4 separate regions of the Homo sapiens genome follow, and regions 2, 3 and 4 are each linked to region 1. Evidence: fine-mapped expression QTL. A gene starts in region 1. Each other region holds a variant in brackets. All regions are shown on one strand. Distances are from middle to middle.

Region 1 (8,000 bases):
CACTGCAAGTTGGGGACCATTTGTATGTTGAAAAAAACACCAACCTAAAAAGGATCAAATAGACCCATACTGCAGGAAAGCAATTTTTACGTATGTGCCAATCAATCCTACATTAACAGGATCTACACAAACCCGCTCAGAAATACTTGTCTGTGATTATTTAAAAACAAAGAAACAAAAAAACATGAATCCTGGCAGGTTAGATGAGAAACTGACCTAGGGTTACCACGTGAACCTGCCTTAAGAAATTTCTCAAGCTCAGAGCACTGTACTGATAATAACCTTTCTAGGTATGACATACCTTCTAAAAAACAATTGTAATTACATGGTTTTAGTTCTTATTTGAAAGGAGCTGACAAAAACTGGAACACAGAAATAGTACTTGATTTGCTTTTAAATTAGAGAAGTGACAACTGAACTGAGATAAATTTCCTTAGAGGAGACATAAATAATACAAGTTAGTTTCAAAATACCTTATCTCGTGCCTGTTTGGTACGTCATGCTTTTCAGCCTGTAGTTTCTGGGCCAACACTGAATGAAGATCTGACTTTTCCAGCAATTTGTTATCTATTAAAATAAAAAAGTCAGAAACTAAGTTATTTATTACAACGTATGTACACTTGCTAGGTACCTACCTTGTCATGTATTGAAGGATGCAATACAGGAACATACATTCCTCAGCCACAGTAACCTACAGAATCACCTGCAAGAATGTCTTCCCTATTAAAGGGAGCTGAAAATGCTTTCTACCCCAGAAGTTATTTGTTTCTACCTTGGGAGGAAAAAAGAAAAACACACTAAACACAATGGCAAAGTGAAATGCTATGTACCTTTAAGTAAGACAGGAGAACTTTACCATAAGTTGACATATCTAATTACTTTTTAGGTCAGGGAACTAGAAATACAAATGACAGTCTCCAACATGGAGTTAACATTTAATTCAGTCAAGTATAAAAAGGTACAGAGAATACACTCTGTACTCATTTTTATGAATGGTGTCACAGGAGGTGATATATGAGTTAAGTCTTAAAAGAAGATGATGGGCCATGCAGAAGGAATAACAGAGTCTTTTGGTAAGTGGCTGGAAATAAAGGTTGGAGCCAACACAGGAAAAAGCAGGATCAGAAATTTAGACTTCTTACTGGCAATGATTAAATAAAAGATTATAAAAGCAGGCCGTTACGCTAACAGATCTGTATTGGTAAAAAGTCAAGGATTATTCTGAGGCTCCTCGCTCAAGCAACTGGGCGGAGGATGCTAACGTGTGAGAGAACACAAGAGGGGAGAGCTTAGAGAGGAAATGAGTTCTCTTTCCAAACATAATAAATTTGACAGGAGACAGAGTACAGAAATTCAAAACACAAGATTAGAAAGAACACGTAGTTAAGTGTAATAGGCACACAGGCCTATTACTGTGGCTCACGCCTGTAATCGCAGCACTTTGGAAGGCCAAGGAAGGCAAACTACCTGAGGTCAGGAGTTCGAGAACAGCCTGGCCAACACGGCGAAACTACTAAAAATACAAAAATTAGCCAGGCACGGTGGCACTTGCCCACAGTCCCAGCTACTAGGGAGACTGAGGCACAAGAATCGCTTGAACTCGGGAGGCAGAGGTTGCAGTGAGCTGAGATCGCGCCACTGCACTCCAGCCTGGGCGACAGAGTGAGACTGTCTCTAAATAAATAAATAAATAAATAAACAAATGAAATGAAATAAAAAATAAGAGTAATAGGTACACAGGCACCAGTAAGATCAGATGTGGGTACCTGTTCTGCAGGTACCAAGCAGAACAAGACAGGGTTTATGCTAGTGACTATTCCTGTTAAAAGAGCTTGTTTCTCCTTTTAAAGAGTTTTGAGTCCCACTTTTTGATACCTGAAAAGAGAACTCCTGGGTAGAAACACTCTCATCTATTGGTCAAACGAATTAGCCAAACTGGACATTGGTTTCAACCTGGGAAATTATGGTTTAAAATCCACCAGTGTCAAAGGGCTCTAGTAAGACCTTCAGATGTTAAACCAAAGCTTAGTGCCCTGTGATAATTTTAGGTTCTTTCAAAAAACACAGGCGTTCAAAAGGAGTCCTTCCCAAAGGTTCCTCCCTGAAGAGAAGGCTGGAGATGGAGGGAAGCCTTTCCCTCCCCCTACGGCTTCTTTCCACCTTTCTCTTCAGACTCAAAGGCACGGACTGAACAGAGAATAGACTCCAGGCTGATGGAGGGTCAGAGCTTGACTGGCCTGGGAAGGCTGGAATGAGTGGAATGAAGGTGTTTCACAAACTATAATAGAAATGATCTCCCTAAATGTCAATCCCTCTGCCTAAACAGAAGATCTTAACATGCAAAGCCTGTCTCACTCTCCTGCCTCTTGTTAGCTTCTCATCCCGGTCTCCTGTCCTGGTCCCTCAGGCAGGTATTACTCGCTACTCTAGCACCCTTTAAAGCTATCTGCTCTCCACAAGTGACCTCTTATTCTGACTGTTCTACATGCTCCTGCCCCATCAAGATGCCATTTTCAAAGTGCAGGAAAACATTCCATTTGTGTCAAAGAGATAACGCTTTACAATTACAAGCTATTATACAGATGGCTTTGAAAGCACTTATATGCACAGCACTGTTTTTATGAAGTGGGCAGGGCAAGCTTCATCCCCATTTTATAGATGAGGCAAAACAGACTCAGAAAGTAAGTGAAAATGTTCAGTGAGGGGTGAGTCAAGCCTCCCACCCAATTTGACTTTCAAAGGATATTAGCTTTTAAAGCATAAGCACCTAATAAGCACCTAATGAACTGATTTATGTCATCTGTCAGGGAATCATGTTTTGAGGAAGAGGGACTTCTTGTGCTTCTGGCTTTCTGAAACAGCACTGTTCTTCAGGGCCTCCTAGAACAGCAAAGCATCCTCTTTCTTCTTAGTTTTGTTAAAACAATGGGTGCAGTGAAAGCAAAGAACCATTTGCTGGGGGAGCCAGTGAGAAAAGCAAATGCAAAAGTTAGTCATCAAGCCTAAGTTCAAATTCCAGTCCCGGCTGGTCACTGTGGCTCATGCCTGTAATCCTAGCACTTTGGGTGGCTGAGGCAGGTACATCACCTGAGGTCAGAAGTTCAAGATCCGCCTGGCCAACATGGTGAAACCCTGTCTCTACTAAAAATACAAAAATTAGCTGGGCGTGGCGGTGCTTGCCTATAGTTCCAGCTACTAGGGAGGCTGAGGCAGGAGGATCTCTTGAACCTGGGAGGTGGAGGTTGCAGTGAGCTGAGATCACGCCACTTGCACTCCAGCCTAGGTGACAGAGCAAGACTCTGTCTCCAAAAAAAAAAAAAAAAAAAAACAAAAAAACCCAGTCTCACCATTAACCTGCTGTGCAACCTCAGAAGTTACCTAATCTCTCTTGGCCTCAGTTCCATGTGTGAAAATGGCAATAACAGTTCCTGCTTCATACACAGAATTTTGGGAAAGATAAAATAACACATGCAAATACTTACCACAGTACTAAAATTTGTCTGCACAGTAGTCATTTGGGAAGCATCAAAAAACACTGATAACTTGGCATGCAGTTCTAGGCTTAATCTCACACAAACACAAACACACACACACTGATACTTGTGTACTGTGATACTTGTGATTTAGTTGGTCTGGGGTGTGGCTTGGGATTTGTAATTTTTTAAAGATCCATAGGTGATTCTAATGTGGAGCTAAGTTTGAGAACTACTGATTTTGCACAATCAGAATGCAATATAAGGTAGCAATTATTATTCTGAATATCATCAACAGCATAACTTGAGAAAGTCGTCAGGTTTACTTTCAGACGCAGATGGAACCACCTTAGGACCATTATAATTTAGGTAAAGGTACAAACATTTTTGTACCCTTAAGCTGCAAGCAGTAAGGGGAAAGAAAACCACCTCTTTCATACTGAAGATTTCAGTAACAGTAAAGGTTCTGTCCCGCCTAAAAGATATTACGATATTAACACCAAGGTGGGGCCGGGCTCGGTGGCTCACGCCTATAATCCCAGCACTTTGGGAGGCCGAGGTGGGAAGATCGTTTGAGCGCAGGAGTTGGAGACCAGCCTGGGAAACACAGTGAGACCTCGTTCCAAAAAATTTTTTTTTAAAAAAATTAGCCGACCGTGGTGAAGCGCGTCTGTAATCCCAGCTACTCGGGAGGCTTAGGTGGGAGGATCACTTGATCCTGGGAGTTTGAGACTGCAGTGAGCCGTGATCTCCGCCACTGCACTCCAGGCTCGGCGACACAGCAAGACCCTGATCCCCTATCCCGTTTCCCCGCAAAAAAAACCACCAAGGTGGAGTAAGGGAAGTAAGTTTGAGGAATCAAAGGCCACCCGTTCCAGTGCATTGAGAAGGCAATGTTAATTCTGCGACTGAAAGTCAACGACCGTTTCATTAACATGACCCCATAGATGGGATGTTTCTGGGACCTATTTAAGTGCATAAGCATTGTATGAGCTACTGGGATTTACAAATACAAACACGAACTGTGCCTCCCCACAAAGATCGTACAATTTAATAGGGAAAATCCTCCAAAGATAAAACGCAGGTTAGAAAAAACATTTAAAAGGCGTGCGGCGTCCCAAGCGCGGGTTACCCGGGGCGGCCGCCATGCGTGCGGGCGGCGCCAGGGACTCGGCCTCAGGTTCCCGCTGACGCCCCGCATGCCTCCGCGGGGCCCGCCCGCCCCACTCCCAGCCCGCACCGGCGCCGCTCACACTGCAGGATGATCTCCTCGAACGCCTGTCTCTGCAGCCGGTCCCGGCGCCTCAGTTGCTCCGAGATGTGGCGCTTCCAGCGGGGGAAGTCAGCGGCGCGGAGGCCCGACGACATGTCACTTGCTGCCCCGGCACCTCAGCGCCACCAATGCGAGCGAGGGCTGACGGCCGCAGCCTGCAGCATGAAGCAACCAGCAGAAGCGGGAATGCCGGCAATCCCGGAGCTCACCTCCACACACTGGCAGTCCCCGAGGCCATCCGGGACGGTCTTCCGGCTCATGCCGGAAATGATTTTCGAGAGGGCCGGAAGACCCGCCCCCTCACCCGAAGCACGGGCTCAGGAGCCGGTGCCTACGCAGGGCGCTCGCTAGTGACGCCAGCCTGTAGCCGGAAGCGTCAGCTGCAGAGAGGTGGCCGCTTGGGGGCGTCCGGGCCCTGCGCAAGGCCCAGCGCCGGGCGGGAAGGAGGCAGGAAAGGGGCCGTTTCCGCCTGACTGCTTACTTTTCTTTTGCTGCTTTTCAACCCTTTTCGTGTTTTTTTTCTTGGCCTGTCTCCCCCCACTTTTATTTTTAATCGCAGTTTAGGAACAAATGGGGTTCCCTCCATAGTAGCTCTGTGGCTGTGGATGAGTGACAGCCTACCTAAGCCTCAGTTGTCTCATCTGTAAATGGGGACAGTAATGATACCTACCTCAGAAGGTTGTCACGAATAGTAAAAAGAAAAACCCATGTAATGCAGTCAGCACTGTGCTTGGTACAGGGGAAACCTAAGTTTACAAAGACACCTGGTGTCTTCCCAAGGCCTACCCTGACAGCAGGAGCATTGCCATCTTGGACAACTGCCACCATTTTAAGTTCCCCTTGATTAAGAAACTGCCTAAATCCAACCCAAAAACATCAGCCTAATGGCTAATGTCAGCATAACCAGAAACATTCCAACCCTAAGATAAACCCACTTCCAACCAGAAACATGCCAACCCAGAGATAGCCTCCCCTCCGGCCAGAGACTTTCCAACCCTGCAATAAACTTTCCCTCATACAGAAACATTACGAACCTGCAATAAGCTCACCGCTTCGTAAACCCTTAAACACCCTTAGTGTGTAAGAGAAAACGCTCCTGACCAAAATCGACAAGAAGCCCCTCTCAGGTTTATTCTCCAAAATAAACCTGTCTTTGATTGTTAAGCTGCTTTTCGTGTTTCTTTCTTGTTTCTTAACTCTTACATACCTGAAGTCAGGGTGCGTTGGGAAGAGTGTCCCACTGAACTTGGAAACAGGTTTTGTGGTTTGTTTGGGGTTTTTGTTTTTGTTTGCAATGGAGAAGAGAACTGGAAACGGGAGCTAAGAAAGATGTGAATTGTGTATCAGAGTTTGTCTTCATTGTTAGAATCCTAGAAATTGTGGCCTGACAATAAATGGAGCCTTAGAAGGTAATCTGAGGCTGTAGATGTTGAAAGGGGGAGATGAAGACACACTGGCTCCTGAGAAAGTTGTGTCTGTGAACAAGCTCAGTAGAATGGAAAACCCAGTTCTGTAATAGAGTTGCTGGAGCTCCATCTGCCTTTAACAATTAGTGAATTTACTGCATGAAAATGGAGCCAGACAAAGTAGTTGGCCAAAAGAGGAAAGGAATATCAGAAACTACCTTCTCTTCCAGTGTGTCTCAAGTCCAGAGGAAGGTCCTTCAGAGACAGATAAGAAGAACTTAGGCTGAGGAGAGGAGGACAGTCAGGCTTCTAGCACTGTAGTTGAAGATGGTTCACTGGTAGTCAGTATTGAGTGGACCTGAAGTCGTTGGAAGGATCCAATGGGATCAGAAATAGAAGTGACTTCCTCACACGCTGAAGAAAATGAAAAAGTTCTGAAAGTGACCGAGAATGCCTTCAAATGCAGCAGTGGCACCACCCTTAAAAGACCATTACACCAAATCTTGACAGTTGAGCATGTTAATTTCCCACATTTATGATTAAAATATGTTTCCAAGGTTGGGCATGGTGGCTCACACCTGTAATCCCAACACTTTGGGAGGCCAAGGTGAGAGGATCACTTGAGCTCAGGAATTTGAGACCAACCAGCCTGGGCAACATGACACAACCTGTCTCTACAACAATACAAAAAATTAGTTGAGTGTGGTGGCGTGTGCCTGTAATCCTAGCTACTGGGATGGGGCTGAGGTGGGAGCATCGCTCGAGCCTAGGAGGTCAAGGCTGCAGTGAGCTGTGATAGCACCACTGTGTTCCAGCAGCCTGGTCAACAGAGCAAGACCCTGACTCTCTCTCTATATATATAAAAATATGTTTACAAATTTGCAGTTTGCCTAACCAGCAATTCCACTTGCAGGAATTTATGCCAAGAAATATTTGGACACATGTCCACATACAAAAATCTTTGTTGCAGAATTGTTTTTAGGTTGGTGTAAAAGTAATTGCGGTTTATAATAATGATGAGAAGTTGGAGAAAAAAATCTACATTTCCAACAATAAGAGATTGGTTAAATTACTGTACATTTATTGCTGGAAATTGTTGATAGTAACAGCAGTATATGTCATAATTTATGTAAAATGAGTATGTCCCTAGCTCATCATAGACAAATATTTGTTGAACACATGAAGAATAATTTCTAAAGAAAGAATATGAAGCTCTGCTAGTCCTGCCCTCCTCCTAACTCACCAGCTTTATCTAGCACACAACCACAGCCACGCTGAAGCCTCTTACTTCCTTCTGCTTACCGTGCTCCCTCTCGTTGCAGGGCCTTTGGATTTACTGTGTTGGGCACATCTTCCCTTCTGACTTCTCCAAATTAATTTCTGTGTGTTCGTTCTCATTTCAGTAGTCACTTCCTCGCAACAGTAGGATGAGAGACCTTCACAACCTGTTACAGATCTTATCTCCCTGTTACGCGTGTACCTCTCCTTTATAGCATTGATCCCAGTTATAGGTTCACATGTATTTGTATCATTACTTGATAAAGGTCTGTCTCCCCCAGTAGACTGTAAACTCCATGAGACAAGAGCTGTGTCTGTTTTTGCACATCATTATATCTCCAGCAAGAGCATGAAGCCCTTTATGTATTAGGTGCTCAGTAAATGTTATTTAATTAATGAATGGAATATGTGAAAATACTGATAATAGTATTATCTGTAGGCAGTGGTGTTGCTGGGTTTTTTTCTTATATGTGTATTTTATATGCATTTTCTAATAGGTAGACATTATATATATATATACTACATATGCATGAAAAAGTTGGGCCGGGCGCGGTGGCTCACACCTGTAAT
Region 2 (8,000 bases), 430 kb before region 1:
AACTACATTGCATCCAAAGTAAAGACTACCATGCAATTATTAAAAGAACATGTCAAATCTGTATGCATTGACCTGTAAAGATATCTTTAACTTATTGACAAGAGAAAAATCTAACATAAAAAAACATAGCCAGCATGATAGTAGATTTTATATTGATAAAATAGAAGTGACAATTTACCCTAAATATATGCATATACATAGTATAATTTCAAAAAAATTGAAAACAATTCACACAAAACTGCTAAGAATATTTTCCTCTGGGGGTAGTGTAGAATTAGCAAAAAAAGGGAAGTTTCATTTCTTACTGTGGTTTTTTTGTATTTTTCCAAAAATAGCATTTAGATTGCAGCCTAGATATGATCTACAATTATATCAATTGTATACACTTACATATCAACAAGAGCTGCTTTATACAATTTGCTACCCAACAATTAAGTGAATTGGTACAAAAGAATTCCTTAAACCAGAAAGAAATTCCAAATGGGACAAATGTAAATGATAAATTATGATTCTGTAAGAAATCTTTTAATTTCCAAAGCCAGATTATTCTTAATGTGCTAAAGGGGAGATAACTTACCATAGGCACTGGCTTTCCCTGATGACAGTTGATACCACCAATGAAGATCATATTGGGCATCACGGGTTTGGGATACTCCAAAACAAAGTCAGTTCGCAACAACCAAATTGATGTGTGGCTGTAGAGATCATATGCCGTGACAGGGGTTTGGAGAATTTCAGAGGCTATTTCTAAGACATTTTTGAAAAAATAGGGGCAAAATAAATGTTCCTCCAAGTGCATGATGTGGTTCCATACTCTCTCCTTGAAAGTCATGGCGTCTGAGAACCCTAAGAGAAGTCTGGGGACATAGGAAAGAGGAGCAGGGCACTGTGCACCTTCTTCAAGATAGTGGCAAAATATTCCCCTGGCGAAGACCACAGAGGGGAGGGAGAAATATTTGGCAACAATTAAGCCACAGGCATCAAAAGGATCGAGAAACACTGCATCAAAACAACTCTCCTTTAAGTATTCTACTAATTTTCGGTCATTAAACAAACTCCTGCAATTTGAAAAAAATAAGTCAAAAATACCATTGGATGAACTTGTTAATAGAGAAAATGCACTTCGCAATGGTGCCGTCCAGCGAGCATCGGCAAAAACCATGAACTCCCGGTCCTGATCCTCCAGAGTGTATGAGGTTGAGTAAGTCTTCACTGTGCAATTCAGTGATCTTCCCAGTTGCCAACTCACCTCTGGCATGACTACGACCACCTCATGCCCCCTGAGGATGAGTTTCTCCACCACCGACTGCATGGTGAACCAGTGGCTCCCATCCATGGGCACTACCAGCAGCTTCCCTGCCTTGGCAAAGCCACAGGTCAGCAGTAGACACACATATAGGGGAAGGAGGCCAGTCCACCCTGCACGAGCCATCAGAGAACTTCAGCCCAGAGCCAGCAGCTGGGATTCTAAGCTCCTATAATATAGTAAGTGGAAGAAGTACAGATAGAACCTGCCCTCAAAAGAAGGCGTGTACTTATTCATTCATTTAAAAAAAAATTCACATTCACTGCCAATGATTTACTCATAATAATACATGAGTAGCCTTTGCTGAGATACCTGCTTATATGTTTTCAAGAAAAGAGTAACTCATCATCTTTGCCTTGGGGACAGATCATGCCCTGTGCTGCAATATGAGTTTAGAAACAAAATTATTAAGCAATGCTTTTGGCCTTGACGACATTGAAAGATAAAAAGGAAAGTAAATTTGAACGAAGCTAATAATTTTGGAATTTGTCACAAAGAAAAATTTGCAATTTTTTTTTTTTTTTTTTTTTTTTGAGATGGAGTCTCACTGTGTCATCCAGGCTGGAGTGCAGTGGTAAGATCTAGGCTCACTGCAACCTCCACTTCCTGGGTTCAAACGATTCTCCTGCCTCAGCCTCAGTAGCTGGGATTACAGGCGCACGCTGCCATGCCCAGCTAACTTTTTGTATTTTAGTGGAGACGGGGTTTCACCATGTTGCCCAGGCTGGTCTCGAACTCCTGAGCTCAGGCAATCTGCCCATCTCGGCCTCCCAAAATGCTGGGATTACAGGCGTGAGCCACTACACCTGGCCAAAGTTTATAGACAATTTTTATTTTGTCCTCTGCCCAGAAAGAAATTGGCATCTCATGTTCGACGGAAAGAGAGCAAGGGTCTTAGCGTTGACCTCCTAACTGGGAGGAAATTGCGGCTCACCTGTGTCTCTGCAATACACAGCTCACTTGCGCATTGCAGAGACACAGGTGAGCCACAATTGTGACACAGGTGAGCCACAAGTGCTGCTTGTCTTTTTTCATTTCCAAATCTTCTGAGGCCTCTGAAATGCTGTAATGAGATTGACAACCCTGCCTCCATGGACCCTTCCAGAAATTTGATGGAATGTGACTGTCACCTATTTTAAATGGCTTTCCTCAGATACATTGTCTGCAGTGGTGAGTCGCCGTCCCTATGCTTGCCCAAGCACTCTAATGAGCTGTCTCTCTCTGCCCACTCTGCTTCTGCATTCTGAACAGAGCTGCAGGCCTTTGCTATGGGCCCACCCCAATCACTTTGGTGCTCATCTTCAGGAATCTATGTATTGTTTCCTCCATTCTACCGAGCACCCCTTGAGGATGAGATTACATCTTCTACCTGTTTTCATCCTCCTTCCACAGCACCCATGCTTTGCCTTGCACAGAGGAAGTCCATGGGAATTCTCATTGCATTGGGCTGAATTCCATCATGCAGATTTTAATGGGTGAGCTCAGCAGTGTGTGTTAGGCAACACACTGAGGAGCATTTCGTGAGGGATTCAACAGCCAACCTCAGGGCATAATTCTTGTAGAAGCACAAGATGGTTCCTTCCAGGACACCCTAACTGGTACTAGACATTTGCTTAGTCACTTTCCTCTAGTACATACTACACTACTATAATAATTTTGTTGCTACCTCCTGTTGCTATTGCAGGGAGCTAAAGTGTGGCCTAAATGCATGTGATATGACGTTTATACCCTCTGCGCGTTTCTTCTCTCTAGTAAATTGCATGTCAGAGTAAAAAATGATCTCTTATGGTTCTACTGTATTTTTCATCATGTTTAGTGTAATTTTTTAAACCTTGAATACCACCATGGGACTATAAAGTGCAACTAATGATGCTGCAAGTACTCCCAAGAAGCAAAGAAAAATCATGACATTACCAAAAAAACTTGAATTACTTGATAGGTACCGTAGATTGAGCTCTGCCGCTATGATTGCCTGCCATTTCAAAATCAATGAAGATAGATAAGGACCATTGCAAAAGAAAGAAAGAGAAAAAGAAAAAAGAGAGAGAGAGAAAGAAAGAAAAGAGAAGAAAAGATTCATGAAGACATTGCTGCAGCTATGCCAGCAGGAGCCAAACCTCGCATCTTTTTGTGAAATACATTTTTGTCTCATATTGAAAATGCAACTTTAATGTGGGTGTAGGATTGCTATAAGAAAGGCTTATTTATAGATGCCAATGTGATTTGAGAAAAATTAAAGTCATTTTATGACAACTTAAAGCAAAAGAGAGGTGAAGAATCTAAAACTGGAGAATTTAATGGCAACAAAGGATGGTTTGCTAGTTTTACAAAGAGGTTTGGCTTTAAAATTGTCCAGATAACAGGAGAACCAGCCTCTGCCAAGCAAAAGGAGGCAGATGAGTTCCCAGATGCCATGAAGAAAAGCATTGAGGACAAAGGATATCTGCCTGAACAGGGTTTTAATACAGATGACAGTGCCCTATTCTGGAAAAAACAAAAACAAACAAACAAAAAAAAAGATGACACAAAAGACATTTATTGGCAAGGAAGAAAACCAAGCACCAGAATGTAAGGCAGGAAGGGATAGGCTAACTCTACTGTTTTGTGTAAATGCAGTCAAGTTTACAGTCAGGACTGCCCTCATCAGTAGAACTGCCAAACCTCAAGCCTTGAAAGGAAAAGATCAACACTCACTGACAGTTTTATTGTTGTACAAAAAGAAGGACTCAACAATAAGAACGCGTTTTCTGGATTGGTTCCATCAAGGCTTTGTCCGTGAAGGCAGAAAATGCATTGCCAGCAAGGGACTGTCTTTTAAAGTTCTTTCGATATTGGACCATTCCCTAGCCACCCAGAACCCACAAGTTCAACACTGAAGGTGTCAAAATGGTCTACGTGCTTCCAAACCCAACATCTCTAATTCAGTCTCTCAATCAGGTGTCTTAAGGAAATTTAGAACTCATTACACACAGTTTTCT[A/G]TGGAAAAGGTTGTCAATACTATGGAAGAGAATCTGGATAGAGAATGTCATGAAAGTCCAGAAGGATTACACCACTGAAGATGCCACTGTTATTATAGAAAGAGCTTTGAAAGCCACCAAGCCCCAAACAGTACATTTCTTCTGGAGAAAACTGTGACCAGATGTTGCACATGACTTCACAGGATTTATGACAGAGCCAATCAAGGAAGTCATGAAGGGATTATGGATACAGCAACAAAATGTTGGGGATAAGGTATTTCAAAATATGACTCTTGGAGAAATTCAAGAGCCAATAGATGCCACACTCAGGGAATCAATAGATGACCTGATAGAGATGAGTGCTTTCCAATCAGTACTTGATGAGAAAGAAGATGTAGAAGAAGCAGTGCCAGAAAAAAAATTGGCCTTACACAATACAAGCCTCATAGAAATGCTTCCAATTATTTAAGACTGCTATTGACTTCTATTAAGACATGAACCCTTATGGGCACTGAAACTAAAGCAAATGGGGAAGAAGGATTAGTACTGTATAAAAGCATTTTTAAATACATCAAAGAGAAAAAAACAGACAGTAATTATGATGTATTTCCATAAGGTTACACCAAGTGCACCTGCCTCTCCTGCCTCCACTTCCACCTCCTCTACCTCTTCTGCCTCTGCCACCCTGAGACAGCAAAATCAACATCTACTCCTCCTCCTCCACAGCCCACTCAATGGAAGATGATGAGGATGGAGACCTTTATGATGAATGACTTCCTCTTATACATACTCAACTTTTATTTTAGATTCAGGAGTACATGTGCAGGTTACCTGAGTATATTGTGTGATGCTGATGTTTGGGGCATGATTGCTCCCATCACCCAAGTACTGAGCATAGTACCCAATAGTTTTTCAACTCTTGCAGCCTTTCCTCTCCCTTTTAGGAGTCCATAGTGTCTATTGTTGCCATCTTTATGCCCAAAAGTACCCACTATTTAGCTCCCATTTCTAAGTGAAAACAATGGTATTTGGTGTTCTGTGCCTGTATATATTCCCTTAGGGTAATGACCTCCAGCTGCATCCATGTTGTTACAAAGGACATGATTTCATTCTTTTTTTATGGCTGCATATTCCATGGAGTATGTGTTCCACATTTTCTTCATCTAAGCCACTGTTGACGGGCACCTAGGTTGATTTCATGTCTTTTCTATTCTGAATAGAGCTGCAATGAACATACCAGTGCATGTGTTTCTTGGTAAAACGATTTTTTTTACATATATCTAGTAATGGGATTGCTGGGTCGAATGACAGTTCTGTTTTAAGTTCTTTGCAAAATCTCCAAACTACTTCCCACAGGGGATGAACTAATTTGCATTCCCACCAAGAGGGTACAAGTGTTCCCTTTTCTCAGCAGCCTCACCAGCATCTATTATTTCTTGACTTTTTAATAACAGCCATTCTAACTGGTGTGAGATGATATCTTATTGTGGTTTTCATCTTCATTTTTCTGGTAACTAGTGATGTTGAGCATTTTTTCATATGTTACGTTTTTTAATAACATTTTCTTTTCTCTAGCTAGCTGCATTGTCATAATACAGGATATAATACTAATAACATACAAACTATGTGTTAATTGACTGTTTATGGTATTGGCAAGGCTTTTGGTAAACAGTTGGCTATTAGTAGTTAAGTTTTTGGAGAATCAAAAGTTCTATGCGGATTTTCTACTACACACGGGTTGGTCCCCTTCATTCCCACATTGTTCAGGGGTCAACTATACTAGCAATGAACACTTGAAAACTGGATTAAAAATACCACTTAAATAGCATCAAAAACATGATATACTTAGGGATATATCTGACAAAGGATGTGAAAGACTGTACATTGAAAACTACAGAGCACTGATGACGGACCTAAATAAAAAGATATGTTAATGAATTGGAAAACTCAAAATTGCTAAGATGTTGTTTCTCCCCAGTTGATCTATAAATAAAATACAATCCCAATCAAAATCCTAGCAGGATTTTTGCACACATTAATGAACTTATTTTAAAATGCATATGGTAATGCAAAAGACCTCCAATAGCAAAAGCAATTTGAAAAAAAAAATTAGAGGTAACACTACCTCATTTATAGATTATTACACAGCTATAGTAATCAAATATTTCACAAATAGATCAACAGAACAGAATACAAAGTCTAGAAATACGTGCACAGATGTATGAACAACCAAGTTTTTACAAAGGTACAAAGGCAATGCAGTGGAGAAAAGGTTCTGTTTTTCTACAGTTGAATATTCACACGCAAGAAAACAAGAAAAGACCTCTGTGTCTTCCTACCAAAAGTCTATAAACCCAGTTTTACCACGATGAAAACATCAGGCAAAACACACACTGACATTCTAGAGGAACATTCTACAGGACACCTGACTAGGACTGCTCGAAACTGCCCAAGTCACTAAAAACAAGGAGAGTCTGAGAAACCGTCACAGGCTGGAGGAGACAAAGGAGACATGATGACTACATTTCAGGTGGTATCACTGGGATCCCATAAAAGAACAGGGAAATTAAGTAAAAATTAATGAAATCTGAAGGAAACAGACTTTAGCTTTTAGCTCATCATTATGCGTCAATATTGGTGAATGAGTTGTGATGGATGTGCCATAGAAACATGAGATTTAACAATGGTGGAAACTGGACACAGGGTAGATGAAAATTCTCTAAACTATTTGTTGTAACCTTGCTATAATCCTATATTTATTCTACAATGAAGTATTTGTAAGAAAAGTCACTCAACAGACTGTGAGAAAATATTTGCAGGACCCCTGTGGATGCACACAGGGGTGATTCATCAGTGAATTCATCATCAACCATGCTTCTGATGAATCCATCGGTGAAGGATTCATCAGAGGCATGGTGGGAGGTGGCTGGATGATTTCCACAAATGGTTTTGGAGTCTGACGCTGGAGCTCAAGGACCCCAGGGTGGGTCTTCTGTTGAAAAGACTATTCTTTCCCATTTGAATGATCTTGACACACTTGTCAAACTTTGGCACCTAGTCAATTGGCCAAGGATGTATATGTATGGGTTTATTTCTGAATTCTCCATTCTATTCCATTGATCTGTATGGAAAGATGTTGTGTGAGACAATCCGGGGAAATTTTATTATGGACTGTAAATGAGATAATATTAAAGAATTTTTATTGTCTTAGATATGATAATGATATTGTGGCTATGTAACAAATTTTTCTTATTTTTTATATTAAATGAATTGTTCAGTGATGGAATGACATGCCAAGAATTTCTTTTTAAAAACATACAAATTTATTTTTAAAAGTTTTCTTTAAAAAGATAGAATAAAGGGATAGATGAATTAGTAGAGCAAAATAGTGAAAATTATTTAACCTAAGAATGGATAAGTGGGTGCTCATTACACTGAGTCTCTCCATTGTGTATGTTTGAAAACTTTGAAAATAAAAACTTGAAGTAAATAATTTTAGTGGGAGGCCTTAGTCTTGTCCACCAAAAGCTAACTTTGAATTTGGATCTTGGACTATAGCCAGAATCTTACAGCAAGGGGGGAAGCACAGATCTCTTATTTATCTGTAACCATATCCCACCCCCAGAGCCGCACCTGCCATGGATGGTATAGACAAAGCCTGAATTCTTTTCACCTAAAACCAGTCATTAATTCTGTTGGAACTCATCAAAAATTCAAAAAGACTAGGGACCTCCTCT
Region 3 (8,000 bases), 33 kb before region 1:
TAGCACCAAGCTTCACGTGCTCCCCATCCTCAATCTTGAATTTGAAATCAGCTCTACCACAGATACCTGCTGTACTGTTTTTGTAATTTTTCTATGTCTGAATTATATCAAATTAAAGAATTTTTAAAGCCTCGATGTTGCGCCATGCTGCTGAAAGTCAGTTCCATATTTAAAGTCAGACTAGACAAGGTCACCACAGGCATAATTTACAAAAGGAAACATCAGGACTCCTTATGTAAACAATTAAAACCCCTGGGGGATTTTCAATCAGAGGTCTCAGCTTGAACAAGGCAGATCATAGCCACAGATACCAGCACTCCCAACAATCAAATCCCTTTGTGACTAAGCTGTTGGATGCCAACCAGTGTCTTCCCTGAGCTCACGGAGGAACACAGAATGAGGGACATCACGGAGTGTCAGCTGCCCTTCTGCCCATCGCAGCACTTCTGAAGTGCGATGGAGGAGAGGCAGCTGGGGATAACTGGGATGCCGGGAGGGGATCTGAGGACTCAGACCTTTTACCATTCATCATTGACCTCTATGCAGTGCATGATCAACATTTTTCTATGTGTAAAACACCAGAGGTTCAGAAGGTATTCACTGATGTTTTCTTTCTAATTAGAAAATGCAAGGGTTGGCAAAGTGGCTCACACTGGTAATCCTAGCACTTTGGGAAGCCAAGGTGGGAGGATTGCTTGAGCCCAGGAGTTTGAGACCAGCCTGGGGAAATTAGTGAGACCCTCATCTCTACAAAAAAATTCGAATTAGCTGGGTGTGGTGGGTACTTATAGTCTCAGCTGTTACAGGGGAGGCTGAGGTGAGAGGACTGCTTGAGCCCAGAAGGTCGAGGCTGCAAGGAGCCCAGATCATGCCACTGCACTCCAAACCTTAGTTCCCAAAGATGAGACCTCATGGTTCAGGGTTAGATTTTTTTTGTGTTAACATTTTTGAAACCAATCCTTCCTCTATTTTCAGTGGGGTTAACTCCACTTTAGCACAGAAGCGAAAACTTCGGACCACATATACTCCCCTCTCAGCTTCAATGAGGGAAGCTTGTATGAGTTCTCAGACTGCCTTATCCCACATTCAAACCTCTGAAACTGGGACAGCATCTTACAACTGCTGCCAGTCGGGTGCCGGCTGTGCTGCGGTTGTGTGAAAACCTCCCACTGATCCTTCCGTAAGATCAAGAAAGCTCCAGTAACAAAGCCTACACTAGATACAGTCCATGAATAATGATTCCATTCAATATAAAACATCCACTCTGCACAAATCATGGGCAGAGACAAAACTTGGGTAGGCTACTTCTTAAATTCTATCTTTTTTTCTTTTTTGAGACAGAGTTTCACTCTTGTCACCCAAGCTGGAGTGCAGTGGCGTGATCTCAGCTCACTGCAACCTCCGCCTCCCAGGTTTAAGTGATTCTCCTGCCTCAGCCTCCTGAGTAGCTGGGACTATAGGCGTGTGCCACCACATCCAGCTAATTTTTGTATTTTTAGTAGAGACGGGGTTTTACCATGTTGGCCAGGCTAGTCTTGAATTCCTGACTTCAAGTGATCCGCCTGCCTCGGCTTCCCAAAGTGCTAAGATTACAGGCATGAACCACTGTGCCCGGCCTTACATTAAATTCTGAATAACTATTTTATCAAAATTTCAAATTTGTATTTATATTCACTATCTGTTTCTTTCTTAATGTTAAGAGTAAAATCACATTTCACAAACACAGGGTAGAAAAAGACATTGTTCATAAGTGGGATATGGCAAGTACAGATGATCCTCAACTTATGATGGGGCCAGTCTTGACAAACACATTGTAAGATGAAAATACCCTACATTGGGGACCATCTGTATATTCATTTTTACATACTTCACAGGAACATGTTAATCTTTACACAATTATACTCTTCCTAAAAATTTATCCATTACTCTTTTAAGCTTATAGCGTAAGCATTTTTTCATGTGATAGCTGAAAATTCATGGGCTTTGGGGTTCCACTGATTTGAACACCCTGGGTCTCTGTAACATCTGTGAACAGGAAACATCCTTGTGCTATCTTAGTACGGACTCAGCAAGATGAATGGGATCAAATCTCTTCCTTGTTGCACCTCCCTTTCTTTAAGAGTCTGTCACAGATGCTGTTGCAGTGAACATCTATGAGCACACAGCTTTCTTCTCTTGACTTATTTCCAGGAATGAAACTGCTGAACTAATGGAATAAGGGAAAGGGACGTTTTGTTTCTTGGCTCCTCGTACGTATTGTCACCTTGCTCTTTACAATGTTTGGGCTTGGCCAGGCGCGGTGGCTCATGCCTGTAATCCCAGCACTTTGGGAGGCCGAGGTGAGCGGATCACAAGGTCAGGAGATCGAGACCATCCTGGCTAACACGGTGAAATCTCGTCTCTACTAAAAATACAAAAACTTAGCTGGACGTGGTGGCGGGCGCCTGTAGTCCCAGCTACTCGGGAGGCTGAGGCAGGAGAATGGTGTGAACCCAGGAGGCAGAGCTTGCAGCGAGCAGAGATCACGCCACTGCACTCCAGCCTGGGTGACTGAGCGAGACACTGTCTCAAAAAAAAAAAAAAAAAAAAAAGTTTGGGCTTCTGCTCACCTTATTCTCAGTGAGAATAAGCTGGAGCTGCCTGAGGCTGACTCACTGTCTCGGTGCTTCCAATGGTATAGAGCTGGGCCTCCTACAGGCATTCATTCACCTCTATCATTTATAGAGTCCTTTGAAATGGATCAGATTTAAAATTCTTCTATCTGTTAGGTGTTTCTGAAATTCATTTTTATGATTAACAACACTTTTAGGTTTCATCTTCTACTTTTAAACAGGGATTAACAATAGCGGGGCAGCGGGTTTAGATGTCATCAAGGCCGGGGCCTCAAAGTGGGGAGGCTTCAAGATTTCTCTGCTCCACTGGGCTCTGCACAGACTATCTCTGTGCCTCATGGCAGATAACGAGTGCCGACCCCTATTTCTAAACACAAAATTGCTCATTCAGGTAACAACTTAATCATGCAGCTAACATAACACCAACCAAAGACAGCCGATTCCAGAAGAATGCAGAACTCAAAGAGGAACATTCCAAACAGAAACCATCACCTAGCAGCCATAGCCAATCCTCACTGTGGCCACTTCACCACACCACGAGAGAAGTGGGCAGGGGGGTTCTCAAGCAAGTTTCTCAAGTCAAATCTTACCAAGCAGCCAGGCAGTTTTGTACTGACTTTAGATTTTTAACGGAGGCATCACAGAGGACTCCTTTCAATGCCAGGTTGTTTCTAGGGTGCATTTACAAAAAGGATGTTAAAGCAAGCACTCAACCAGCTGCTTCTTGTTTGCCAGTCTCTCCCAACACCATTCCCTTGTCGTAAGAGCAAAGGAGACACCGAACAGGGCATGGATGTCTGTGAGTTTCACAACATAGATGAATGGATTCCTGTCCTCCAGTACCATCTGTTAACTGGGGTCTAAAAAAAAGCCAGCACTCCCTAGAATAAGGAGCCTATTTTACTTTCTGGAACCTGGTAAGGTTTTCGGGAGACTTCTCTGGGTGCAGGGAATCTGCTGAAACAGGCCTCCCAATCTTCACACATTTACCAAGTAACAGGACAAGGTTATGAGCAGGCCAGAAACTCAAAAGCCAACTAGTCCAGCACAGGAGGCTCCTGCCCCAGCACGGCATCATCAGAAGCAGCAGCCCAGCAGCCTGCGCCCTGCTCCAGCATACTGAGAACATTTCCCCAGTGAGACCTGTGTGCCAGCTCAATGTTATGACCTTCATCTGTCAGTCTAGCTCCCTGCTCTAGGTCCCCTTCTTGTTATTTCTGACCCAAAGGCTGATGCCCACCTGTATAGGACTCCTCTATTACCAATTAAAAAATATCCTGCACTACTGGTTGACTCAACTTCTTCCTCTTCTCCTCTAAGGGACTATCATAAAAAAAAGGCTGTAGGCCCCTCTTCAATAATTGGTCAGTTTTACTGTATCTCAGTCTAGAATAAAAGATCAATGGATAGATAAATCACAGTATACCACAGGATGGATTAGAACGTAGCCATGAGTACCGGCTAGGCCATCTTTTCCATGTGTACAGTACAGAACTACAGGGCTTCAAATGACCCTATTCAAGCATCTGAATTGGTGTGCCCCATGGCAGGCTCTCTAGCAGTGCACTTCCCTAGTCCGTCATTAAGACAAGAACATAGGCTCCTCAGCTCTCACAACATGTCCTTGTCATCGTCAGGGCTCGTTATTTTGCATGTTCGGACCTGGATCTTCTTTAAATTGTGAATTAAGAATGACCACCCCTGAGGTATTGGCTAGCATCTAATACTAATAATCTATACAACCCTCTCAAGAAAATCACCAGAAACCCACCTAATATACCATTCTACTACAGCTCCTCCACCTCCCTTGTAGATTTAAGAAATTCATCTGGGCCAGGCGTGGTGGTGCATGCCTGTAATCCCAGCACTTTGGGAGGCCGAGGCAGACGGATCACTTGAGGTCAGGAGTTCGAGACCAGCCTAGCCAACATGGGGAAACCCCGTCTCTACTAAAAAAATACAAAAATTGGGC[T/C]AGGCGCAGTGGCTCAGGCCTGTAATCCCAACACTTTGGGAGGCTGAGGCAGGTGGATCACGAGGTCAGGAGATCGAGAACGTCCTGGTTAACATGGTGAAACCCCATCTCCATTAAAAATACAAAAAAATTAGCCAGGTGTGGTGGCACGTGCCTGTAGTCCCACCTACTCAGGAGGCTGAGGCAGGAGACTGGCGTGAACCTGGCAGGTGGAGCTTGCAGTGAACCGAGATCATGCCACTGCACTCTAGCCTGGGCGACAGAGCAAGACTCCATCTCAAAATAATAAATAAATTTAAAAAACGAAACAAAAATTAGCCGGGCGTGGTGGAGGATGCATGTAATCCCAGCTGCTTGGGAGGCTGAGGAAGGAGATCACTTGAACCTGGGAGGCAGAGGTTGCAGTGAGCCGAGATCACGTCATTGCACTCCAGCCTGGGCAACAGGCTCCATCTCAGAAAAAAAAAAAAGAAAAAAGAAATTTAGGCTGGGCACGGTGGCTCACGCCTGTAATCCCAGCACTTTGGGAGGCCGAGGTGGGTGGATCATGAGGTCAGTTCAAGACCAGCCTGTCCAAGATGGTGAAACCCCATCTCTACTAAAAAAAAATACAAAAATTAGCTGGGCGTGGTGGCGGGCGCCTGTAATCCCAGCTACTCGGGAGGCTGAGGCAGGAGAATTGCTTGAACCCAGGAGGCAGAGTTTGCAGTGAGCCAAGATTGCGCCATTGCACTCTAGCCTGGATGACAGAGCAAGACTCTGCCTTCAAAAAACAAAAAAAGAAATGTATCTTGCTGGGCACAGTGGCTCACGCCTGTAATCCCAGCACTTTGGGAGGCCAAGGTGGGCAGATCCCTTGAGGTCAGAAGTTCAAGACCAGCCTGGCCAACATGGTGAAACCCCATCTCTACTAAAAATATAAAAATTAGCCATGCCTGTAATCCTAGCTACTCAGGAGGCTGAGGCAGGAGAATTGCTTGAACCCAGAAGGCGGAGGTTGCAGTGAGCTGAGATCACACTACTGTACCCCACACAAGAGCAAAACTCCATCTCAAAAGAAAAAAAAAAAGAAAAAAAATTCATCTTAACATTACTTCCTCTGTTTTTGGTGTGGGTTGACACACACAAACGGCTTGTGTTAACTTTTTAAAAAAAAATTTTTTTTTTTTTTAGTAAAATGCCTACTAATGCCAAATTCATCCTCCATTATATCTTTCAATAGCTTGTATTTAATAAGCTTATGTGATGATTCCTTCAGGCTTATGGGGAAAAAAAATGTCTGCAAATTAAGTTACATGCTTCGCCCTCCGCCCCCTGCCCCAATCAAAAATGATACAACCAAGTTTTGGTCTCTCTGTCAGATGCCAAGAGAATTCTTGGCAAGTTTTGGTTCAAATGCAGCTTTCCTCAACATCCAATCATTTCTCCCTGCTCTGACACCTGTCCCCTCTTTCTCAGCTTGGAGTTTTTGTTTCAGAATTGTCTTATCCCTATGATACATCCATTTGTACTTCTATATCCCACTTTAGGTAATTAGGTTTTAGAGCCCACAGGAATCACAATTCACATGCTGTTGCTAAGTTCTGTGCCATTAAGCCAAAATTGCTATCTACCAAAGTATTTAGTCCTTATGAAGAGTATTCCAAGGTTTTCATGCAAATGTGAGGGTCCCATTGCAAATATTTTGAAACTGAGTTTTGGACAAAGAGTATAAAGTGGAAACACAGATTTCCCCAAGGAGGAAAGGAAGGGCAGGGTGAATCAAGCATGATTTTTGGGAAAACAAAGTCCCCTAATTAAGCACCTGCCAGTTTGTGCCTTGATAACACCACATGAAGTTTGGAGATTGCACTAACTTTCTTAACTGGGTCTTACCCGTAATCGATAATCATCCACAGTCCAGATTCGGCTTGCAAAATCATTTGAAGCTGCTAAGAGGTAAGATCCCTGTGGGAATAAAGAAGAGGAAAACCAATTTTTAGCCAAATCAGAGGAATTCAGTTCACACGATATAAATTCCCCAATAATCAAGTACAAGAAGGTTTAGATGCTTCACCCTATACAACCAGCCTGAATACCAGCTACTGTCGTGAGTGTGCTTCAACTCGCCAGTCTCCTTCGAGTTCAGACCTTTTTTTTTCTGAGCTTGCTCAATTTCATCAGAATATTGCAGACACCTCAAGCTCCAAATGGAACCCAGCCTTCCCTACTCACTTTTCCCTTGGCAACCTTCACTAGCAGCAAATATTAACAAGTCAGAAACCTCAGAGGCACCCTTGACTCTCTCCTTGCCTAATCTCCCAACTCTCACTCTGAGAACTGTTCATCTTCAATGTGTCGAGCCTGGTCCTCTCCTTTCTCCCCTATTTCCTCAGCCCCCACCTGGGCCTTCTGCATCTCTGCAGAAGCACTGAACGCACGGGCCACTGCAGACCTGCTTCCTCCAAGCCAGTCTTCAGCACTGTCACAGTTCCACCACAACTTAACACCATACCCATTTCTAAAAATCTCTCAAGTCTCCACATGGCTTTACAAAAGTCTAAACCTTTCAATACAACATACCCTCATTTTCCAACCTTATTTCCTTATCATTCCCCAATTAAATTCAAGGAGTGGTTATTTAGAACCTAATAGGCACTGTGCCAGGTGCTGGGGGTACAAAGATGATTAACGCCCAGACACTTGTCCTCAGGTAGTCAGCTCTCAGCTTAGTAAAAGAAACAGATATAGACCACCACCGTGCCATAGAATAGGTTTGCACAAGATGCTGGGAACATAGACACTCAGCCCACCCAGGAATGTGAACAAGGCTCCCCAGAGATGACAATCAAGATAAGGACTCTTGGTAGATGAGGACGCTACCTTGGCCTCACCCAGTCATCACCTCCACCCAAGCTCCTGCACTCGCCCAGCCCAACCTCCTCTGCTCCCTCTGCCTGTGGTGTCCGTCCCTGGCTTTTTGCCTCTGACCTTTGATTATCTTTAGATCTGCTTTAAATGCCTTACTATGGCCCCTAACCCTTGCCCCAGAATGAGCTACTCTCTCATCAGTATTTCCTTTCTACTCCACACACATCTCAGCCATAACTCAGCACAACGCTTTGCAGTTTAATGCTTTCCCATCACTCTCATTTAGATGGCGAATCTCGGAGGGTAGAGACCACGCTGGCCCCTGGAGTACAGCATCTATACACTCAAAATACAACTATTAAGTGAAATTATACAAAGTACTGAGTAACATCACAAGCCTAATGCATGAAGCAGAACCCAAGGGTTTATCAGAGTTGATACAGCAATTAACCCTATAATCTATTTCCATCTTTCTTTAACATGGATTTGGCTTAAGATACAGAGAATGGCAGAGAAATCGGGTAAGTTATGTTATAATTTCAAGAACCTAATGTCTTAAATTATTT
Region 4 (8,000 bases), 360 kb before region 1:
AGTGCTTTGATACGTCCAACCTCTTAGAGTCCTGCAACTTGCATCTCTTCACCTGATCTTGCCGTGAGCTGAAAGTCATGCCTAATTTTGAAAGGCCTACAACTGTAGTCTTCCTGCTTTTTAGAAAGAGCATTATTTCACTTTCCTGTGAGATGGCTGAACGGTCACTCTTTCACCAACCATCTGCCAATGACAGATATGACTGTTACAAAGTCTACTGAACCTTATAAGAAGCCAGAACAATAGACAAAAATGTATACTCCATCCCTAATAAAATAATATAATGAGATGAGACACCAGGTGTTTCATCTGGATTTAGCAACTATGCGTTTGCCAAGAATCTTATTCTGGTATTTTTCAAGGATTTTTCAGTCACAAGCTACCAAATCCCTATTTAAACTGGCTACTCTAACAATATTACTCAATAATGTTTTGGAAGTATATGCTCCAGCAAAGCAAAAGAAGCAGTATAAATATCAGAGAAGGGAATTACTTGCAGATGGTATTGCATATTGTACATCTAATGCATACTACAAAATAATAAGAAAAGTTAGTAATGTGGCTGGATACAAGATACATACGCAAAAACCAAAACTTTAATTACCAATAGTCAGTTAATTGTAGAAATGGAAAAATTACCCTGTAAAAAAATAGTTTCAAAAATCATAAAATGCCAAGGAATAAATGTTAATAACAAACATAAATGCTTATATAGTGAAAATTTTTATTTATGTATATAAAACAAGACCTGAATAAATAGTGAGACACACATATTCCTGAACAGGAAGATATAATAGCAAAAAGATGCCAATCTTCTCAATTCAGGAAAACCCTCTAACCCTACATGTAGGACTCTAGTCTACTAAGATAAAAGCAAGAATATAGAAATATATTCACACAAGGAAATTATTAAAGAATGTTTACACAGCCTTATTCATAAAAGCAAAAATGGAAAATGCCTAAACATATATCAATATTAATTGGTTTAAAAAACTACATAGCATCCAAAGTAAAGACTTTTATGCAATTATGAAAAGAACTTGTCAAATCTGTCTGTATTGGTGTATAAAGGAATCTACAATTTATTGGCAAATAAAAAATGCAAGGTAAAGAAGAATATGTCCAGCACAGCATAAAAGTTTATTTTAACAAAATAGGTATGAGAATTTACATTAGATATTGCATATAAATGAAACTTTTTTTATACTGAAAAGAATATACACAAAACTGATAAGAGCATTTCCTCTAGGGGTCAGAAAACTTAGGAAAAAGGGGAGTTTCATTTCTTGCTGTGGTTTTTGGTACTTTTCTAAACACGGTACTCAAAAACGTGGGCTAAATATGATCTATAATTTTTAAATTAAATATATACACCTAAAATACTTTTTTTAATGAAAAGAATGTATGCAAAACTGCTAAGAGCATTTGCTCTAGGGGGTCACATAGAATTAGCAAAAAAGGAAAGTTCAATTTCTTACTGTGGTTTTTGGTACTTTTCTAAACATGGTACTCAAAAATGTAAGCTGAATACGATCTACAATTTTTAAATTATATACACACACCTTCAAGAAGGGCAGTTTTATAAAATTTGATAACTGATGAGTACATAAATTGGCACAAAATAATCTGTTAAACTGGAAAGAAATTTGAAATGCAACAAATGAAAATGTCAAATCACAATTCAGTAAGGAATCTTTTTTTAATTTCCAAAGCCAGATTATTCCTAATGTGCTAAAGGAGAGGTGACTTACCATAGGCAATGGCTTTCCCTGATGGCAGTTGATACCACCAATGAAGATCATATTGGGCATCACGGGTTTGGGATAGTCCAAAACAAAGTCTGTTCGCAACAACCAAATTGATGTGTGGCTGTAGAGATCATATGCTGTGACAGGTGTTTGGAGAATTTCAGAGGCTATTTCTAGGGCATTTTTGGAAAAATACTGGCAAAATAAATGTTCCTCCAAGTGCATGATGTGGTTCCGTACTCTCTCCTTGAAAGTCATGGCATCTGAGAACCCTAAGAGAATTCTGGGGACATAGGAAAGAGGAGCAGGGCACTGTGCACCTTCTTCAAGATAGTGGCAAGCTATTCCCCTGGCGAAGACCACAGAGGGGAGGGAGAAATATTTGGCAACAATTAAGCCACAGGCATCAAAAGGATCAAGAAACACCGCATCAAAAGAACTCTCCTTTAAGTATTCTACTAATTTTCGGTCATTAAACAAACTCCTGCAATGCGAAAAAAATAAGTTAAAAAAACCATTGGATGAACTCAGAAATAGAGAAAACAAACTTCGTACTTGTGCTTTCCATTGAGCATCGGCGAAATCCATGAATTCCCGGTCCAGATCCTCCAGAGTGTATGAGGTTGAGTAAGTCTTCACTGTGCAATTCAGTGATTTTCCCAGTTGCCAACTCACCTCTGGCATGACTACAACCACCTCATGCCCCCTGAGGATAAGTTTCTCCACCACCGACTGCATGGTGAACCAGTGACTCCCATCCATGGGCACTACCAGCAGCTTCCCTGCCTCAGCAAAGCCACAGGTCAGCAGCAGAGAAACACATAGGGGAATGGGGCTGGTCCACCCTGTGCGAGCCATGAGAGAACTGCAGCCCGAGCCAGCAGCTGGGATTCTAAGCTGCTATGATACAGTAGGCGGAAGAACTACAGGCACAAAACCTGACCCCAATAGAGGGCGTGTATTTATCCTGTCATAAAAAAAAAAAAAATCACACTCACTGCCAATGATTTACTCATAAGAACAGGAATACATGAGTATCATTTTTTGAGATACCTACTTGTATGTATCTCATAAGAGTACTATAAGAGTAGCTTATAGTCTCTGCCTTGGACAGATCATGCCCAGTGCTGTAACGTGAGTTTAGAAACAAAATTACTAAGCAATGCTTTAGGACCTTGAAGATTCAGAAAGATAAAGTGAAAGTAAATTTGAATAAAGCTAATATTTTTGGAATTCATCCCAAAGCAAAATTTAGATTTTAACTTTAGCCAACCAAATACTCTCTGTCCAGAAAGAAATTGGTATCCTATGTTCCAAGGAAAGACAGCAAGGCCCCTTAGCACCGACTTCCCAGCTGGCAAGAAATTGGGGCTCACCTGCATCTCTGCAATGCATAATCATTGCTGGTTGTCTTCTGCCATATCCAAACCCTGAGAGGCCTCTGAAATGCCGAAATGACATTGACAACCCTGCCTCCATGGACCATACCAGGGACTTGATGGAAAGTGACCATCACCTATTTTAATGACTTTCCTCAGATACATCACATGCAGTGGGGAGTCTCTAGCCCAGTCTTTGTGCGAGCACTCTGCCGGGCTGCCTTTCTGTGGCCGCTCTACTTCCACATTCTAAACATGCCATCAATCCAGTGCCCTCCTTCAGGAAAATATGTACTTGTCTCCCTCAGTCTACTGGGCACTCCCTGAGGTCAGTGGTGATGTCATCTTTGTGTTTTTACCCTCCTTTCACAGTAGCCATGCTATGCCTTTGATATAATTTGTATGTTTGTCCCCTCCATATATCATGGTCAAATATAATCCCCAGAGTTGAAGGTGAAGCATGGTGGGAGATGTTTGGATCATGGGCATGGTTCCCTCATGAATGGCTTGGCACTGTCCTCCCAATAGTGAGTGATTTCTCAGGAGATCTGGTTGTTTAAACGTATGTACCAAAAACACTCTTTAGGATATTATCCAGGAGAACTTCTCCAGGCTAGCAAGACAGGCCAACATTCAAATTCAGGAAAAACAGAGAACACCACAAAGACACTCCTCGAGAAAAGCAACCCCAAGACACAGAATCATCAGATTCATTAAGGTTAAAATGAAGGAAAAAATGTTAAGGGCAACCAGAGAGAAAGGTCTGGTTACCCACAAAGGTAACCCATCAGACTAAAAGCAGATATCTCTGCAGAAACCCCACAAGCCAGAAGACAGTGGGGGCCAATATTCAACATTCTTAAAGAAAAGAATTTTCAACCCAGAATTTCATATCCAGCCAAACTAAGCTTCATAAGTGAAGGAGAAATAAAATCCTTTACAGACCAGCAAATGCTGAGAGATTTTGTCACCACCAGGCCTGCCTTAAACAAGAGCTCCTGAAGGAAGCACTAAATATGGAAAGGAAAAATGAGTACCAGCCACTGCAAAAACATACCCAGTTGTAAGGACAATTGACACTATAAAGAAACTGCATCAACTAGTGGGCAATATAACCAGCTAGCATCATAATGACAGGATCAAATTCACACATAACAATATTAACCCTAAATGTAAATGGGCTAAATGCCCCAATTAAAAGACACAGACTGGCAAATTGGATAAACAGTCAAGACCCATCGGTGTGCTGCACTCAGGAGACCCATCTCACGTGCAAGACACACATAGGCTCAAAATAAAGGGAGGGAGGAATATTTACCAAGCAAATGGAAAGAAAAAAAAAGCAGGGGTTGCAATCCTAGTCTCTGATAAAATAGACTTTAAATGAACAAAGATCAAAAAAGACAAAGAAGGGCATTACATAATGGTAAAGAGATCAATGCAACAAGAAGTGCTACCCATCCTAAGTACATATGCACCCAATACAGGAGCACCCAGATTCATAAAGCAAGTTCTTACAGACCTACAAAGAGACTTAGACTCCCATACAATAACAGTGGAAGACTTTAACACCCCACTGTCAATATTAGATAGATCAATGAGACAGAAAAGTAGCAAGGATATTGAGGACCTGAACTCAGCTCTGGATCAAGCAGACCTACTAGACATCTACAGAATTCTCCACCCCAAATCAACAGAATATACATTCTTCT[C/T]ATCACCACACTGCACTTATTCTAAAATTGACCACATAATTGGAAGTAAAACAGTCTCTCAGACCACAGAGCAATCAAATTAGAACTCAGGATTAAGAAACTCACTCATAACCACACAACTGCATGGAAACTGAGCAACTTGCTCCTGAATAACTACTGGGTAAATAATGAAATTAAGGCAGAAATAAATAAGCTCTTTGAAACCAATGAGAACAAAGACACAACGTACCAGAATCTCTGGGACATGGCTAAAGCAGTGTTTAGAGGGAAATTTATAGCACTAAATGCCCACAGGAGAAAGCAGGAAAGATCTAAAATCAAAACCCTAACATCACAATTAAAAGAACTAGAGAAGCAAGAGCAAACAAATTCAAAAGCTAGCAGAAGACAAGAAAAAACTAAGATCAGAGCAGAACTGAAGAAGATAGAGACACAAAATATTTTCAAAAAATCAATGAATCCAGGAGCTGGTTTTTTGAAAAGATTAACAAAATAGATAGACCACTAGCCAGACTAATACAGAAGAAAAGAGAGAAGAATCAAATAGACACAATAAAAAATGATAAAAGGGAGATCACCACTGATCCGAGAGAAATACAAACTACCATCAGAGAATACTATAAACACCTCTATGCAAATAAACTAAAAAATCTTGGAGAAATGGATAAATTCCCGGACTCATACACCCTCCCAAGGCTAAACCAGGAAGAAGTCGAATCCCTGACTAAACCAATAACAGGTTCTGAAATTGAGGCAGTAATTAATAGCCTACCAACCAAAAAAAGCCCAGGACCAGATGGATTCACAGCCTAATTCTACCAGAGGTACAAAAAGGAGCTGGTTCCATTCCTTCTGAAACTATTCCCAACAATAGAAAAACAGAGACTCCTCCATAACTCATTTTATGAGGCCAGCATCATCTTGATACCAAAACCTGGCAGAGACACAACAACAACAACAAAAAAGTTCAGACCACTATCCCTGATGAACATCAATGGTGAAAATCCTCAATAAAATACTGCCAAACCAAATCCAGCAACACATCAACAAGCTTATCCACCATGATGAAGTTGGCTTCATCTCTGGAATGCAAGGCTAGTCCAACATATGCAAATCAATAAACGTAATCCATTACATAAACAGAACCAATGACAAAAAACACATGATTATCCTCATAGATGCAGAAAAGACCTTCAACAAAATTCAACAGCCCTTCATGCTAAAACCTCTCAATAAACCAGGTATTGATTGAACATATCTCAAAATAATAGGAGTATTTTATGACAAACACACAGCCAATATCATACTGAATGGGCAAAAGCTGGAAGCATTCCCTTTGAAAACTGGCACAAGATAAGGATGCCCTCTCTCACCACTCCTATTCAACATAGTATTGGAAGTTCTGGCCAAGGTAATCAGGCAAGAGAAAGCAATATAGGGATTCAAATAGGAAGAGAGGAAGTCAAATTGTCTCTGTTTGCAGATGACATGATTGTATATTTAGAAAACCCCATCATCTCAGCCCAAAATCTCCTTAAGCTGATAAGCAACTTCAGAAAAGTCTCAAGATACAAAAATCAATGTGCAAAAATCACAGGCATTCCTATACACCAATAACAGAAAAACAGAGCCAAATCATGAGTAAACTCCCATTCACAATTGCTACAAAGAGAATAAAATACCTAGGAATACAACTTACAAGGGATGGGAAGGACCTCTTCAAGGAAAACTACAAACCACTGCTCAAGTAAATAAGGGAGGACACAAACAAATGGAAAAACATTCCACGCTCATGGATAGGAAGAATCAATATCGTGAAAATGGTCATACTGTCCAAGGTAATTTATACATTCAATGCTATCCCCATCAAGCTACCATTGAATTTCTTCACAGAATTGGAAAAAAACTACTTTAAAGTTCATATGGAACTAAAAAAGAGCCAGTATAGCCAAGACAATCCTAAGCAAAAAGAACAAAGCTGGAGGCATCACGCTACTTGACTTCAAACTATACTACAAGACTACAGTAACCAAAACAGCATGGTACTTGTACCCAAACAGATATATAGACCAATGGAACAGAACAGAGGCCTCAGAAATTATGCCACACATCTACAACCATCTGACCTTTGACAAACCTGACAAAAACAAGAAATGGGGAAACGATTCCCTATTTAATAAATGGTGTTGGGAAAACTGGCTAGCCATTTGTAGAAAACTGAATCTGGACCCCTTCCTTACACCTTATACAAAAATTAACTCAAGATGGATTAAAGCCTTAAACATAAGACCTAAAACCATGAAAACCCTAGAAGAAAACCTAGGCAATAACCATTCAGGACATAGGCATGGGCAAAGACTTCATAACTAAAACACCAAAAGCAATGGCAACCAAAAGCCAAAATTGACAAATGGGATCTAATTAAACCAAAGAGCTTCTGCACAGCAAAAGAAACTATCATCAGATGGAACAGGCAACTTAAAGAATTGGAGAAAAGTTTTGCAACCTATCCATCTGACAAAGGGCTAATATCCAGAATCTAAAAGGAACTTAAACCAATTTACAAGAAAAAAACAACCCCATCAAAAAGTGCGCAAAGGATATGAACAGACACTTCACAAAAGAAGACATTTATATGACCAGCAAACATATCAAAAACAGCTCATCATCACTGGTCATTAGAGAAATGCAAATCAAATCCACAATGAGATACCATCTCATGCCAGTTAGAATGGCGATCATTAAAACTCAGGAAAGAACAGATGCTGGAGAGGATGTGGAGAAATAGGAACACTTTTACACTGTTGGTAGGAGTGTAAATTAGTTCAACCATTGTGGAACACAGTGTGGCGATTCCTCAAGGATCTAGAACCAGAAATATCATTTGACACAGCAATCCCATTACTGGGTATATACCAAAGGGCTTATAAATTATTCTACTATAAAGACGCATGCACACGTGTGTTTATTGCAACACTATTCGCAACAGCAAGGATGTGGAACCAACTCAAATGCCCATCAATGATAGACTGGATAAAGAAAATGTGGCACATATACAACATGGAATACTATGCAGCCATAAAAAAGGATGAGTTCATGTCCTTTGCAGAAACATGGATGAAGCTGGAAACCATAATTCTCAGCAAACTAACACAGGAACA

Which allele goes with the higher level. Alleles are on the strand shown, and positions count from the first base shown. SD is a standard deviation of normalised expression in the study named. Not every link is listed here.
For the expression in stomach of the gene that starts at base 4,996 in region 1, allele C in region 4 goes with a lower level than allele T (moderate effect, 0.74 SD a copy in GTEx).

What was found. PIP is the estimated chance that this variant, and not a neighbour inherited with it, causes the effect.
Region 2: its variant is fine-mapped to the expression of ATG16L1 in transverse colon (CEDAR, PIP 0.95).
Region 3: its variant is fine-mapped to the expression of ATG16L1 in whole blood (TOPMed, PIP above 0.99).
Region 4: its variant is fine-mapped to the expression of ATG16L1 in stomach (GTEx, PIP above 0.99).

The regions. Positions count from the first base shown.
Region 1 is chr2:233,248,669-233,256,668 of GRCh38, reverse strand. It overlaps ATG16L1 (autophagy related 16 like 1), which reads right to left and starts at 4,996. Exons shown (of 18, transcript NM_030803.7): 1 at 4,727-4,996; 2 at 474-567. The coding sequence starts at 4,841. RefSeq lists an enhancer at 4,709-5,408.
Region 2 is chr2:233,675,370-233,683,369 of GRCh38, reverse strand. All of the region lies in intron 1 of UGT1A8 (UDP glucuronosyltransferase family 1 member A8), which reads right to left. The region is part of intron 1 of UGT1A10 (UDP glucuronosyltransferase family 1 member A10); the gene reads right to left. The region is part of intron 1 of UGT1A9 (UDP glucuronosyltransferase family 1 member A9); the gene reads right to left. UGT1A7 (UDP glucuronosyltransferase family 1 member A7) reads right to left here and starts at 1,469. Exons shown (of 5, transcript NM_019077.3): 1 at 578-1,469. The coding sequence starts at 1,432. It also overlaps UGT1A. The variant A/G (reference allele first, on the strand shown) is at 4,285.
Region 3 is chr2:233,281,213-233,289,212 of GRCh38, reverse strand. ATG16L1 (autophagy related 16 like 1) reads right to left here. Exons shown (of 18, transcript NM_030803.7): 12 at 6,460-6,531. It also overlaps SCARNA6. Among named protein-coding and RNA genes, the nearest start is that of SAG, 23 kb to the left of the region's middle. RefSeq lists an enhancer at 28-529. The variant T/C (reference allele first, on the strand shown) is at 4,585.
Region 4 is chr2:233,612,314-233,620,313 of GRCh38, reverse strand. It overlaps UGT1A8 (UDP glucuronosyltransferase family 1 member A8), which reads right to left and starts at 2,681. Exons shown (of 5, transcript NM_019076.5): 1 at 1,752-2,681. The coding sequence starts at 2,606. It also overlaps UGT1A. The variant C/T (reference allele first, on the strand shown) is at 4,840.